Homo sapiens: one gene and its partner. The protein of the gene in region 1 interacts with the protein of each later gene in a pairwise test. Each region holds a gene or a part of one and is shown on either strand. Other genes may lie near its edges.

Region 1 (7,028 bases):
CTCCCAAAGTGCTGGGATTACAGGCGTGAGCCACTGCACCTGGCCACTTTCATAGTCATTTTAAAGCTGGAAAGTGTCGTGGTAATCTTTTACCTATTGTAGTTTCATTTTTTAAATGAGGAAACTGGCTTAGATATGTAAGTGATTTACTGAAATCTTCAAAACCAAGTCTTCCCAGTGTTTTGTTAAACTAAAATCTTAGACATGTGAGCAACTTGGACGTTCAGAGCTACATTTAAAATCCTTAATTCTGGCTCTAGGTAAATAGCTTAAAGTTTTGATTTGAGTCCTAAGAGATTTTTTCAACTGGTATTGTATTGGAATCAGGGAGGGGCTGGCTCACCTGATGCTTCTGAAAGCAAAGCAGTAATTTAACATATTATAAGTTGGCACAAAAGTAATTGTGGTTTTTGCCATTACTTTTAATGGAATGTATTAATTATTAAATATATAAATAATATAGAATTAATATATTAATATTAATATATTAAATATACAGTTAATATTAAGTATTATATAGTTAATATTTAATATATAATATATTTAATGTTAAACATACTATACATAATATATATTTAATATATTAAATAGATAATATATATTTTATATATATATAAATATATTCCATTAAAAGTCATGGTAAAAACTGCAATTACTTTTGCACCAACATAATACTTTGTTTATAGTGACGGTATTTAACTTATTTTGAATAAATATTAAAGATGATGTGAGCTTTTATTTATCCTAAGTGATTACAACGAATGGATCTTGTTTTTATATGACTTTGAAAGATAACTAATAACTATTTTAATAAAAAATAGTATTGCATATGAGAATCTAAATTAAAGTAAGACAACTAAGCTTCTTGTCAGCAAAGTTAATTCCTAAATATGAAAGCCTTAGGTTCTATTTGTTTTTTCTGTTGTATACTAAATGTCCGTGTTACCATAACTATATAGAAATAGTTTGAAAAACTATATTTTATATTATGAAAATTATATTGCATCATTTAAATACTAATTTTCATATGTACATATTTTCTTAAATTATCTCAATGGATACCACTATAATAATGCTGTGATGAATATTTTCATGAATATATCCTTTAGAAAAATTTTTTCAGATGTATTTGTAGAAGTAGGATTTCTCTGTCAAAAAAGCATCAACATTTTTAGATTATTATTACTCAATTGTGTACATATTTCTTAATGTGGATATAAATATATATGTTTGTGTGTAATATACACATACAAATGTGGATGTCTGTTATAGATATAATATCTATTATATCTGCTTAATTTATTGTTTTATTGCTTTCTAAAAAGATTATTCTACCACCTTATAGAGATACTAGCAGTGTGTGAAGAGCTGACTGATTTCTCAATAACCTCATCAACTTTAGTACTTTAGTTAATATTGTCTCCCCTGAGTTTCACAAGTGAAATGATGATTATAGTTCATTGTTTCAGTTTGTACTTTGTTGATGACTAATGAGGTTTTAGCTATTTAAAGATGTAGAATTTTCTGTTAGAAAAAAAATTCAACTCTAAGATAGTAAAATATATTTTGTCATTAGGGAATGTGAGAATAAAGGAATAGTTGGTTGATTACTAAAGAAAATGTCATATAATTAATGAGAAATATAACTTAAAATATCAGATAATTGATATAAAGAACTGCTCTCAGTCTTGTCAAGAAGCCAGGCACATAAACAATTTTACTTTGAATAAGACTTTTAAAAATTTTACAAAGTTTTATAAAAAGTAGTACATTGAGGCCAGAAATGGTGGCTCATGCCTGTAGTCCCAGCACTTTGGAAGGCTTGGGGGAAGGATCGCTGGAGCCCAGGACTTCCAGGTTGCAGTGAGCAATGATTGTACCACTACACTCCAGCCTGGGATACAGAGGGAGACCCCATCTCTAAAATAAATAAATAAATGAAATAAAAAATTAATATATTGCATTTCATCCATTGTGCCACCATGTTAGAAATAATATTCTTCAAATTTATGCTTATAGAAATGGGACGTCGGTCATCAGATACTGAAGAAGAAAGCAGAAGCAAGAGAAAAAAGAAACACCGTAGACGGTCCTCCTCGAGCAGTTCTTCAGATAGTAGAACATACAGCCGAAAGAAAGGAGGAAGGAAATCAAGATCAAAGTCAAGATCTTGGTCCAGAGATCTTCAGCCTCGTTCACATTCTTATGATAGAAGGTGATTTTTGTAATTTTTATTTATATAGTAATGAGGATAACATTCTTTAAAATTCATGTTTTTGTATTTTTAATTTTGCTAGATAAAACATTTTTCTTTTACTAGCTATATATTTATGAAAGTCCCAACCCAGAGTTTTTTTGTTCCACCAGGTCCAGTCCGTGGGTCTAGTGTCCTCAACCTTTGTCTGTTCTTAGTAGGCAAATAGATAGAAAGTGGTGTAGTTTCCTTTTTTAATTTAATTTAATTTTTTTTCTAGTGCATTTATTTATTTATTTTTCTAATGAATTATTTTTTATTTTATTATACTTTAAGTTCTAGTACACAACATGCAGGTTTGTTACATATGTATACATGTGCCATGTTGGTGTGCTGCATCTGTTAACTCGTCATTTACATTAGGTGTATCTCCTAATGCTATCCCTCCCCTAGCCCCCCACCCCATGACAGGCCCCAGTGTGTGATGTTCCCCTTCCTGTGTCCAAGAGTTCTCATTGTTCAATTCCCACCTATGAATGAGAACATGCGGTGTTTGGTTTTTTGTCCTTGCGATAGTTTGCTGAGAATGATGGTTTCCAGCTTCATCTATGTGCCTACAAAGGATGTGAACTCATCCTTTTTTATGGCTGCGTAGTATTCCATGGTGTATATGTGCCACATTTTCTTAATCCAGTCTGTCATTGATGGACATTTGAGTTGGTTCCAAGCCTTTGCTATTGTGAACAGTGCTGCAACGGAGTTTTGCTCTTGTTGTCCAGGCTGGAGTACAATGGCGTGATCTCAGCTCACTGCAGCCTCTGCCTCCCAGGTTCAAGCAGTTCTTCTCAGCCTTCCAAGTAGCCGGGATTCCAGGCATGCACCACTATGCCCAGCTAGTTTTGTATTTTTAGTAGAGACAGGGTTTCACCATGTTGGTCAGGCTGGTCTTGAACTCCTGACCTCAGGTGATCTGCCCTCCTCAGCCTCCCAAAATGTTGGGATTACAGGCGTGAGCCACCGTGCCTGGCCTTAATTTTAAATTTTTTTAGAGACAAGATCTTGCTCTGTCACTCAGGCGGGAGTGCAGCGGTGCAGTCATATCTTTTGGACTCAAGGGATCCTCCCACCTCAGCTTCCTGAATAGCTAGTACTAGAGGCATGTGCCACCATGCCTAGCTAAGTTTTTTTATTTTTATTTTTTGTGGAGACTTGGCCTTGCTGTGTTGCCCAAGCTGGTATCGAATTCTTGGCCTCAAGCGATCCTCCTGCCTCGGCCTCCCAACATGTTGGGATTACAGGCATGAGCTACTGAGCCTGGCCTTGGTTTAGTTTTCATACCATATAATCTGATGATATTTGGAAAGATTCTAAGACCCTTAATACCTTAATTAGTACTGATCCAATCACTAAGTTATGAACCAGTCATATGACTGTTCAAGAGAAATAACATTTTAATTTATCTCTGTTTGCTTCCAGGAAACAGTGAGACAGTAAAAATCAGATGATTCTTTAGAATCTAGAAGGTTTTTCCTTAATGCTCATAATAAAAATTTTTATAGCAGTGATCTTTGATTATATTTTATTTCAGACGCAGGCATCGATCAAGCAGTAGCTCTTCTTATGGCTCCAGAAGGAAACGAAGTCGAAGTCGTTCAAGGGGTCGAGGGAAATCCTATAGAGTTCAGAGGTCTAGGTCAAAAAGCAGAACAAGAAGGTATGCCTTATTAAGTATTTATTGCTTTGTAACAAATTATTCCCAAATTCAGCGATGTAAAGCAACAATCATTTATTTTCTTATAATTATATAATTTTGATTGAGCTTAGCTGGCACTTATTTTTTTCTCACCTGGGGTCATTCATGCAGTTAGTCATCTGATAGCTTGATTGGAACTGGATGGTCTAATGTGGCCTCACTCATATATCTTGCATTTGGTTCTGGCTATTGGCCGGGGTGTACGTGGCTTCTCATTGTCCAGTAGGCTAGATTGGGTTTCTTTTTTTCAGCCCGGTGGTGGTAGCACGTGCGTTCCCCAGACATGAGTTTACTAGTATTTTGTTAAGGATTTTTGCGTCAGTATTCATCAGGGACTTATGGCTTGCAGTTTTCTTGTAATATATTTGTCTGGCATTGGTATCAGAGTAATGCTGGCCTGATAAAATGAGTTTGGAAGTACTCCCTCCTTTTCAGTTTTTTTGGAAGATTTTGAAAAGGATTGACATTAATTTCTTTTTAAATGTTTGGTGGAATTCTGCAGTGAAGCTATCTGCTCCTGGGCTTTTCTTTGTTAGAAGGTTTTTGCTTACTGATTCAATCTCCTTGTTAGTTATACGTCTGTTAAGATTTTCTCTTCCTTCATGATTCAGTCTTGGTAGGTGGTATGTTTCTAGGAATTTATCCACTTTTTCTAGGTTATCCAGTTTATTAGCATTCTTAGTAGTCTTTTATAATCCTTTCAATGTTTGTGGCATCAACTGTAATGTCTGCTGTTTCATTTCTGATTTTAGTTATTACGCTTCTGGTATTTTTTCTTTTTCTTTCTTTCTTTTTTTTTTTTTTTGGAGGTGAGGTGTTGCTCTGTCACCTAGGCTTGGGTGTATTGGTGCAGTCAGCTCACTGCAGCCTCAAACTCCTGGGCTCAATGATCTTCTCACCTCAGTCTCCTAAGTGGCTAGAAATACAAGCATACACCACCAGGCCTGGCTGACTTTTTAAAATATGTTTTGTAGAAATCAGTCTTACCATATTGCCCAGGCTAGTCTCCAACTCCTGGTGTCAACTGGTCCTCCCACCTTATCCTTCCAAAGTGCTGGCATTATAGGTATGATCTACCTTGCCCGGCCTCATTTTTTCTTAATCTAACTAAGTACTTGTTAATTTTGTTGTTGTTTTTCAAAAAACTCTTAGTTTTGTTGATTTTTTTCTAAAGTCTTTCTGTTCTCTATTTTATTTATTTTTTTCTCTAATCATTTTTATTTTCTTTCTTTGGATAATTTTTGGTTTAATTTGTTCTTTATTTAGTTCCTTGAAGTATTAAGTATGATATGAGACTTTTCTTTTTTTCTTAAATGTAGGTGTTCATGCTAAAACTTTCCTTTCAGTATTGCTTTTGCTGTTTCTCTTAAGTTTTACTATGTGTGTTTGTGTTTTCATTTGTTTAAAGGTATTTTCTAATTTCTCTTATGATTTCTTCTTTGGTGTATTTGGTTGTTCAAGAGTGTGTAGTTTAATTTCTACATATTTGTGGATTTTCTGATTTTTCTACTGCTATTGATGTCTAGTTTCATTTCTTTGTGTTTCGAAAAGATACTTGCTATGATTTCGGTCTTATTAAATTTGTTAAGACTTGTTTTGTGGCCTAACATGAAATCTGTCGTGGAGAATGTTCCATGTACACTTGAGAAGAATGCATATTTTGCTGCTGTTGTGTGGAGTGTTCTGTGTATTTATGTTAGGTCTAATTCATCTGTAGTGTTGTTCAGGTCCTCTTATGTCTTATTTTTCTGTCCATTATTGAAAGTGGATTATTGAAATACCCTACTATTACTATGTTACTAAATACTTCTCCCTTCCATTCTGGCAATGTTTACTTTATATATTTGAGTGCTCTGGTGTTAGGTGCATATATATATAATTGTTATATATTCCAGAATAATGACCCATTTATCATTATATAATTTTCTTTTTTTCTTGTGACAGTCTTTGACTTAAAGTCTATTTTGTCTTGTGTAAGTATGGCCACTTCTGCTCTTTTTTTGTACCATTTGTATGGATTATCTTTTTCATCTTTTTCAGTATATGTGTGTCTTTACATCTAAGGCACATCTTTTGTAAACAGCATATACTGTAATTGTATTTTGTGTGTATGAGTGTGTGTTTTGAAAAATTCATTCAGCTACTTTTGTGTGTTTTGTTTGGGGAGTTTAATCCAGTTACATTTACAATAATTACTGATGGGGAAGGACTTACTGTTGCCATTTTGTTGATTGTTTTCTGCCTTATAGCTATTTTGTCTCTCATGTCTCCTGCTGCCTTCCTTTTTGTTTTGTTGATTTTTGTATTGACATGCTATGATTTTTTTTCTGATTTTATTTTGTATATGTTCTATAGGTATTTTCTTTGTGGTTGCCATGAGGCTTACACAAAACATTGTCTTTTAAGTTGGTAATAACCTTTGACTTTATACAAAAATACTGCTCTTGTATGTTTCTCCACTTCTATTTTATGTTATTGATATCACAGTTTACATCTTATTGTATCCATTAATATAGCTTATAGTTAGTTATTTTTTATACTGTCATCTTTTCAATTCTATATCTGAATTAAAAATGTTTTACATACCACCATTACAGTGTTAGTGTACTCTGTACTTGTGTATATATTTACCTTTACCAGTGAGCTTTATGTTTTCATGTACTTTTGTGTTGCTGTCTAGTGTCATTTCATTTCCACTTGCAGGACTCCTCTTAGTATTTCTTGTAAGGCAGGTCTGGTAGTGAAGAACTCCCTTAGCTTTTGTTTATCTGGGAAAGATTTGATTTGTCTTTTGTTCTTGTAGAACAATTTTGCTTGATATAGTGTTCTTGATTGACAGGGTTTTTTTTGTTTTTGTTTTTGTTTTTGTTTTTGTTTTTGTTTTTGTTTTTTGCTTTCAGCACTTTGAATATATCACCTGATTCCTTTCTGGCTTGTAATGTTTCCTCTGCAAAATTGCTGAAATCTTATGAAAGCTCCCTTGTGTATGACGATTTACTTTTCTCTTGCTGCTTTCAAGATTCTCTCTTTGCCTTTAACTTTTGTTAATTAGATTATAATGTGTCTATGTGGGCCTCTTTT
Region 2 (7,028 bases), on another chromosome or scaffold:
TTTATAGATGAAGGCCACCCCTCTGAATAAACTTCCTCAGGATATTTTAAGTCTATCTCTCAAGGTAATTTAGTACCAGGATAGAAACATATATTCAATTCATTGATTTCATAGCAATATGCATACATCATGCAACTGCAATCTAAGCAACCCCCTGCTTAGTCTCTCTTTCTCCTCTACCCCTCTGTGGGGCATACTTGATGAGGCAATAGCTTTATAATGTATCAAATTGCAACCAGATGTCTGCCTCAAATGTCAGAACAGTAGAGCAGAGTGGGAAGCAGTATATCATAGTGGTTAAGAGCTCAGACTTGAGCATGAGACAACCTGGATTCCTGTCCTGGTTCTATCATTTACTAGCTGTGTATCCTGAACAAATAGTTTTACCACACTGAGCTTGAAAATAGAAATAATAACAGTAACCCCTCAGACAACAGGTTGTAAGGATTTAGTTAGGTAAAGCTCTACCCCTATGTGTGGTGCATGGTGTTGTTTAGTAGACATTGACTCTGGAACAAAGCTTATAGTGGCCAAAAGGAAAGCAACAACTCCTCATCATTGTGTTCTCCATGCCTACCCATTTCTCCCCCAAGTAATGCTGACCATTTTTATTGGGATTTCAACTCCTGATGGACAACTACATTCAGATGAAGTTAACACACATGAGGCAGGGTAGAGAGTGGTCCCATAATCCTCGTCTCTGAGAAGAGGCTAACTGCTTTCTGATCTGACTGTTTCAGTTAGGGGGTTGGGGATAATAAATAATTATCTGGATTCAGAATTGATTGGTATAACATTTCCATGGAGCATTCTGTTGGTTTGTATAGAGAAGACCAGGTACTGTCAGTCTAAAGAAAGCTCAAACTTCTTGAAAAATCACAATTTTAATCCCACGGTTTCATCAAATCTACAGTGACTATGTGATTTATAGTTTATATCAAAATGTCTTTAAAAATGAAAGAAGGTGTCATTAGTAATTACCTAGGATGGAAGATCTAACAGAGATCATCCCAGGCAAACCAGGATGTACAGTGGTCCTTGTCAAACTTTATCTACCAGCCGGAAGGGAACCAGCATGAATCGATAAGATATATGAATCTCTAAAGTGTAGAGAGCCACCTCCCTTTTATCCCCATCCAAGAAGGGTAGTCATTTTGCCTGGCATTAACTTAATTCTCTTTTTTAATTGCTTAGCCTAGAGAAGTTTGTACCTAAGAAGTTTCAGCTCGGTGAAAACCTAGTGCTTAAGGCTAGATCAAGCCACAATATGATTTCATATCACCATATCGACCAATAGTAGCAGCTAAAGGCTTAATGAACATGTAAAAATCATTTGAAATTTGCATATCAATTGTTTATGGATGCATGAGTGTTAGTAAAGGGCTAGAAAAGATATCCCCTTAAGTAGAACACACATTTTCCTTACAATTCTTTTAGCAAGCTATTAATTTTCTTCAAAAATCCTTTCTACGCAGAATAGACCAGAAGTAGACTTCAGCCCAGGCCCTGTCCAAAAGGCCATAAATTCCAAACTATTGGAGATTTTACTGCATAAAGGGAAATTGTAAGGCAGAAAAAAAAATGCCTTTGAACCATTTAATTCAAGACTCCCCTCGGTGCCAAGAGATCAGTTAGCAGTTTGTGCTGACTTGATCATCAGGAGCCAGGTGAGGGGCTGTTGAGAGGCGATTTTCTGGCAGCAGCCTGTGGTTAAGAGCCAATGCGCTGAGGGTCACAGAAAATGCTTGCCCTGGCGGTGAATGAGCGTTTTTCTCTAGGAAGGGAGCGTTATTGTGTGGGTCAAACCTTTCTCCTTTTGAAAGGTGAAATTTGTTGAATGGGATACAGGGGTTGGTTGCAGGGGGTCATTTCTGACATTCTGCTGTGTTCACCCGGCACACGTGCTATCTTAGAGAACGAGGTTGTGGTAGATGTTCAGTGAATGTTGGATGCATTAATTAGATGAATGTGCATGGTTCAAACCCAGCAACAGATTAGCTCTCTCCCCACCCCACCTCCAGTTCTGAGACGCTGAGGCTTCTGATCAATGCAACTTGAAAGACGCACACACTGCAAATAGACTTGACTCTCCCTGGTGTCAGAATGAAGTTCCCTAGATAGAGACATCTGTCTGTCTGGGCAAGTAGACATGTTAGCCAGTATGGGGGCAGGAGGTTGGACTAAATGCCACTTGGATGTGCTTTCTAGGCCTGTAAGTCTCCATTACCTCCACCACTGCTCCAGGCCACCAAAAAAAGGGAACATCCCTAAAACCCTAACTCCTTTAATAGGGAAGGAAGCCTGGGTCACATGCCTTCTTCTCCATGAACTCTTCAGGCATGCTGCAGAAGAGCAATACATTAAAAAAAAAATCTGTTTTTTTTATTTTTTATTTTTCAGAGTGGCTGGATTTACCTTCCCGTGAAGTGGAAGAATTCACAGGGGCTTAGCAAAACTAGAGCTCTTTAATTGCTTGTTCCTAAGACTTTCGCTGAAGTGTGAGAGAATATTTCTGAGGTGGAGGAAGTAGAATGATGAAGAGTTTGAGCTCTGAAGTCAAATCTATCCAGGCTCAAATCTTTCTTTGCTACGTGCAAGCTGCAGGACCCGCTAGTCACTTCACCTCTTTGTGCCTCAGCCTCCCCATCTGTGAAATACTCCTCTGTTGGGGTTGTAGTGAGGAGTGAATGAGATAATTTATATAAAGAGCATGGCACTGTGCCTGGTACAAACCCAGATCTCCATAAAGCAGATGCTCTTGTGTACTATGCCAGGGGCTACCCAACGAGATGCAGAGAGGGGGGATGCTAAAGCCCCTTACTACCTGGGCTGCGCTTGTTCAGTAGTGATGCTTGGGTTCTGTGGACTGGACTCCTGAGCAGCTCCAATGCTCTGTATTCACTTTTAAATGTGGCTTTGGTGCTCCCTAAAGAGCCACTGGAGATTGGTAGAGCTGTTTGAAACATTTGATGGACCTCAGGGGCACACTAATCAAAGGAAGTGTTTTATTTTATTGGTTGCAAATGCTTACGGGCTATGAGACTTGGCAAGCAGCTTGACCTTCTCAATCTCAGTTTTCTCATCCATAAAATGGGGCTAATAATAGCAGCTCCCTCCAAGAGCTGCTGTGAGGACTGGATGAGCTAATTTATGGAAAGTGCTACTTGGCACCCAGTCAGAGCTCCATCAGTGTTGGCTCTTGCTATTAATAATAAATGATAGGTTTTTTCGTTACTATTTGCCAGGCCCATTGGGGAGAAAAAAGTTGAATGTCCTCTAGTGAGGGCCTCAGAGTTTAGTAGAAAAGGTAGACACAACATAAGTACATATTTCATAAGGGAGACAGTCTTTTTAATTTTTAAAATTTGTTTTCACATAATAACTGTACATATTTGGGGGATACATAGTGGTGTTGTGATACATATAATGTACAGTGATCAGATCAGTGTAATTAACATATCCATCATCTTAAACATTTATAATTTCTTTTATTAGAAACATTCAGTATTTTTCTTCTAGCTATTTGAAACTGTAAAACATATTATTGTCTTAAGCATGATAATGTAGGGAGAAATAGAGACAGAGGAATGTAAAAAAAAAACAGCGAAGGGAGAGACCCTTAATGAAGCATGGAGTCCCTTGCTTATAGTCACACAGTTATTTTTAGTTATCCGATCTGCAAAATGGGGATGATTCTTCTATTTCATCAACGTTATCTACAAATACAAGGAATGATCAGAGAAAATCAGACCTTTGCCCCCAGCAGGGTCTCAAATACCATTTCTTTTAATAGGAGAGAAAGCAGGCTAAACTCTCTGAGGGGAACATTAACTGTGGGGGAATAGTCAACGCTAGTGGAGGGGAGCCGTGGAAGGGAGCTGCTCATATAATATACATTTTCCAGCTCAAGGATGCAGTCTCTGGCGTGGGCTATTAGGCTTCTTGTCCTTCATGGACCAGCTCTAGCTAATAGGAAATCTAGTCTGCATTCCATGAACAACCACCAGTGATGGGGGGATTATAGCGAGCCTGCAAATGTGGAAGATAAAATTAATCACAGGGGAATTAATACACAAAGTGGAAGAAGCTGCACGTTGGCTAAAAAAAAATTAGGTTGTACTTTCATTCATTTATTCAGTCATTCAACATTTTTATTGAACCACTACTCAACGTAACAGTGAATGAACACAGGAACTCCCTGTTCCCGTGGAGGAGAAAGACAATAAATGAAGAACCAAATAAATAAATGAGAGCTGGTGGTAATGCATTCTGTAAAGAACAATAAAGCCAAGGAAAGGAATAGAGGGTGAGGGAATGAGCTGCTTTGTTGGACAGCATGATCCCTGAGTGAAGGGAGAGGTGAGCTGTGAGGATAAGTGAGAGAAAAGTGTTTGAGGCAGAGGGAACAGCAAGTGCAAAGGCCCTGAGGTAGAAGGATGCTTGGTGTATTTGAGAAATAGCAAGGAGGTCAGTGTGGCTAGAGCAGAGTGAGTGAATGGGAGAGTGACAGAAGATGATTCCCAGGATGCAGGCAGAAAACAGATCAAGTGGGGCCTTGTAAGCCAGTTCAGGAAATTCCTAGGTCCTGGGCTGGGGGCAGGAGGTGGTCCCAGGAGGGTTCTTGCCTTCTCAAGCAGAGTTCCAGATCTGATCTGCTTCTGTTTGACTCCTCTTTCCTGACTCTGATGCAGCCAGTGATGACTTTGAACAGCAATATCAGAAGATTGGCTGGGTCCCTCCATGTGTTATGGACAAGCATGAAATTTACAGTCCCTTTGATTGTGAACAATCACATCAGGAAACTTTAAAGATGCTGTTTAGACTTCCAAATAGCAGTGATAGATTTTGTTCCCACGGTGCAAGGGTTTGGTCTCTCATATTCATGCATGCAAACCTAGACTATCCCTTGCACCCAGTAGCCCCCTCCACTGCACACTCTTGAAGCTACAGTCTGCTCTTTCTGTCTCTCTCCCTCTGTGTATCTCTCCCGGCACCTGTCCCCCCACACCTTCCAGCCCCCCACTCCATTTGAAATTTTGCTGAGGGAGCTCCCATATGCTACAGCCTCTGTGCGGAGCTCTGTGAAATAGAACACTGAATTAAGATGTCATAGAGACAAAGCCAAACCAAATACAGGAACAATGCCGAACCCTAAAACAGTCATTAAGTAATTCATGTCTACGTGTGTCTGTTCAAAACAAATATTAAGATCCTCTGGACGCAAATCTTTCTCATCCGGAGAATCCTCTGGTTGCTGGATTCCCAAAGCTTAGATGCCGCTGTCGGACAGCTTTGCTGAGTACAAATACCAACAGATCACTGTTCTCTGGCTTCGTTAAAAGTTAAGCTTAGGCAACTGAGCAGGAATTTAGAAGACAGTTGCCACTTCTGCAGAAAGAGAGGTGCCATTTGGGCCTGAAGCGTGCATCTTCATGGTGTGTGTGCACGCTCACTTGTGGTGGGAATGTGTGTGCTAAGAGCCTTGTGTTACTATGTGCCTTGCCCTGTGCTGAACACATTTCATCTCTTATCCAGTTCTGTACTTATAATAATTCCAGAAGAGAGGTGTCTTCAAGACCCTATTTTACAGATGAGAAAACAGAGGCTCTGAGAATAGAAATGATCTGCTCACAGACACATGGCTGGTAAGAGTCAGAATTGGAATGAGAACCCAGAGCTCTTAACCAACATGTTTATAGGATAAGACACTTTGCAGAGGAGGAAAAAATGGTATCACAGAGGGGAGGTAAGCCCTGGGAATCCAGCAACCAGGGGAGTCTCTAGATGAGAAACCTTTGCGTCCGGAGGTTCTTACTATTTGTTTTGAACAGACACACGTAGATGTGAATTGCTTAATGACTGTTTCAGGGTTCGGCATTGTCCTATTTGGTTCGGCTTTGTCTCTATGTCATCTTAATTCAGTGTGCCCATGATCACACGGTGTGTAAGTGATGAAAGCAGGAGATGAATTCAGGTCTGTCTGATTGCTAGTATATTCTTCTCTCCTGGCTGGACTTCCTGTCATTCTGGTTTGGGTTTTAAGGTTGGGGGTGTTTTTGTTTTGTTTTGCTCATCTTGTTTTATGTTCAATCAGTTTAGTAACTGCCATTGTTATAATCCCATCTCATACCACTTGCAGCAATACTGCTTTCCTCTTTCCTTGCCCCTCTTATCCATTATCCACATAGACCCAGAAGAACCTCTTTGAAAAGCACATCAGACCATGTAAGCCCTCTCTCCCTCCATCTAAAGCCCTCTATCACTTTCTCTTGTTTGTGTTTTTTTGGTTTGTTTTTGTTTTGAGATGGAGTCTCGCTCTGTCACCCAGGCTGGAGTGCAGTGGTGCGAACTCAGCTCACTGCAACCTCTGCCTCCCAGGCTCAAGGAATTCTCCTGCCTAAGCCTCCCAAGTACCCACCCCGCACCCAGCTAATTTTTGTATTTTTTTAGTAGAGACAGGGTTTCACCATTTTGGCCAGGCTGGTCTTGAACTCCTGACCTCAGGTGATCCACCCTCCTCGGCCTTCCAAAGTACTGGGATTACAGGTGTGAGCCACCATGCCTGGACCCATGTTTTTTTAAGTATACAGAGCCAGCTCCCTGCCATGGCCTCTAGCCTCTTCATGGTCCACTTCCTGCCCACCTCCCTGAGACCATTTCTAAAACACCACCTCTCACTTCCTCTGTTTAGTTGCATCTTATTCCTTTTAGTTACTCACATTTTCCAGGCTCCTTCCTGCCATGGAGCCTTTGCACATGCTGCTAGGAAAGCTCTTCCTCTCCCCTGGTGCCTGATTTATACCTACTCCACTTTCCAGAGCTCAGAGGAAATGCTGTTTCCTCGGGGATCCTTCCAGAATGCTGCAGACTAAGTCATACCCCTCATTACAGACATTACTTTCTTATCACTGTTTTCAACACATTTGTAATTATATATGGATTTGGGCGATCATTGGCTAAAGCATACCTCTCCTAACGGTTGAGGCCTCATGAGGAGAGGGACTGTGACTATGAGCTCCTTGTTGAAC

What was found. The genes of interacting proteins can lie anywhere in the genome.
Region 2: the proteins of RSRC1 (region 1) and SRRM4 interact in binary tests that used the Homo sapiens proteins (3 or more experiments, as listed by UniProt).

Annotation. Positions count from the first base shown.
Region 1 is NC_000003.12:158,120,084-158,127,111, forward strand, and holds part of RSRC1 (serine/Arginine-related protein 53), read left to right. Parts: intron 1-2,019; 5' UTR 2,020-2,021; coding exon 2,022-2,215; intron 2,216-3,782; coding exon 3,783-3,908; intron 3,909-7,028. UniProt on the Homo sapiens protein: Has a role in alternative splicing and transcription regulation. Involved in both constitutive and alternative pre-mRNA splicing. May have a role in the recognition of the 3' splice site during the second step of splicing.
Region 2 is NC_000012.12:118,984,537-118,991,564, forward strand, and holds part of SRRM4 (serine/arginine repetitive matrix protein 4), read left to right. Parts: intron 1-7,028. UniProt on the Homo sapiens protein: Splicing factor specifically required for neural cell differentiation.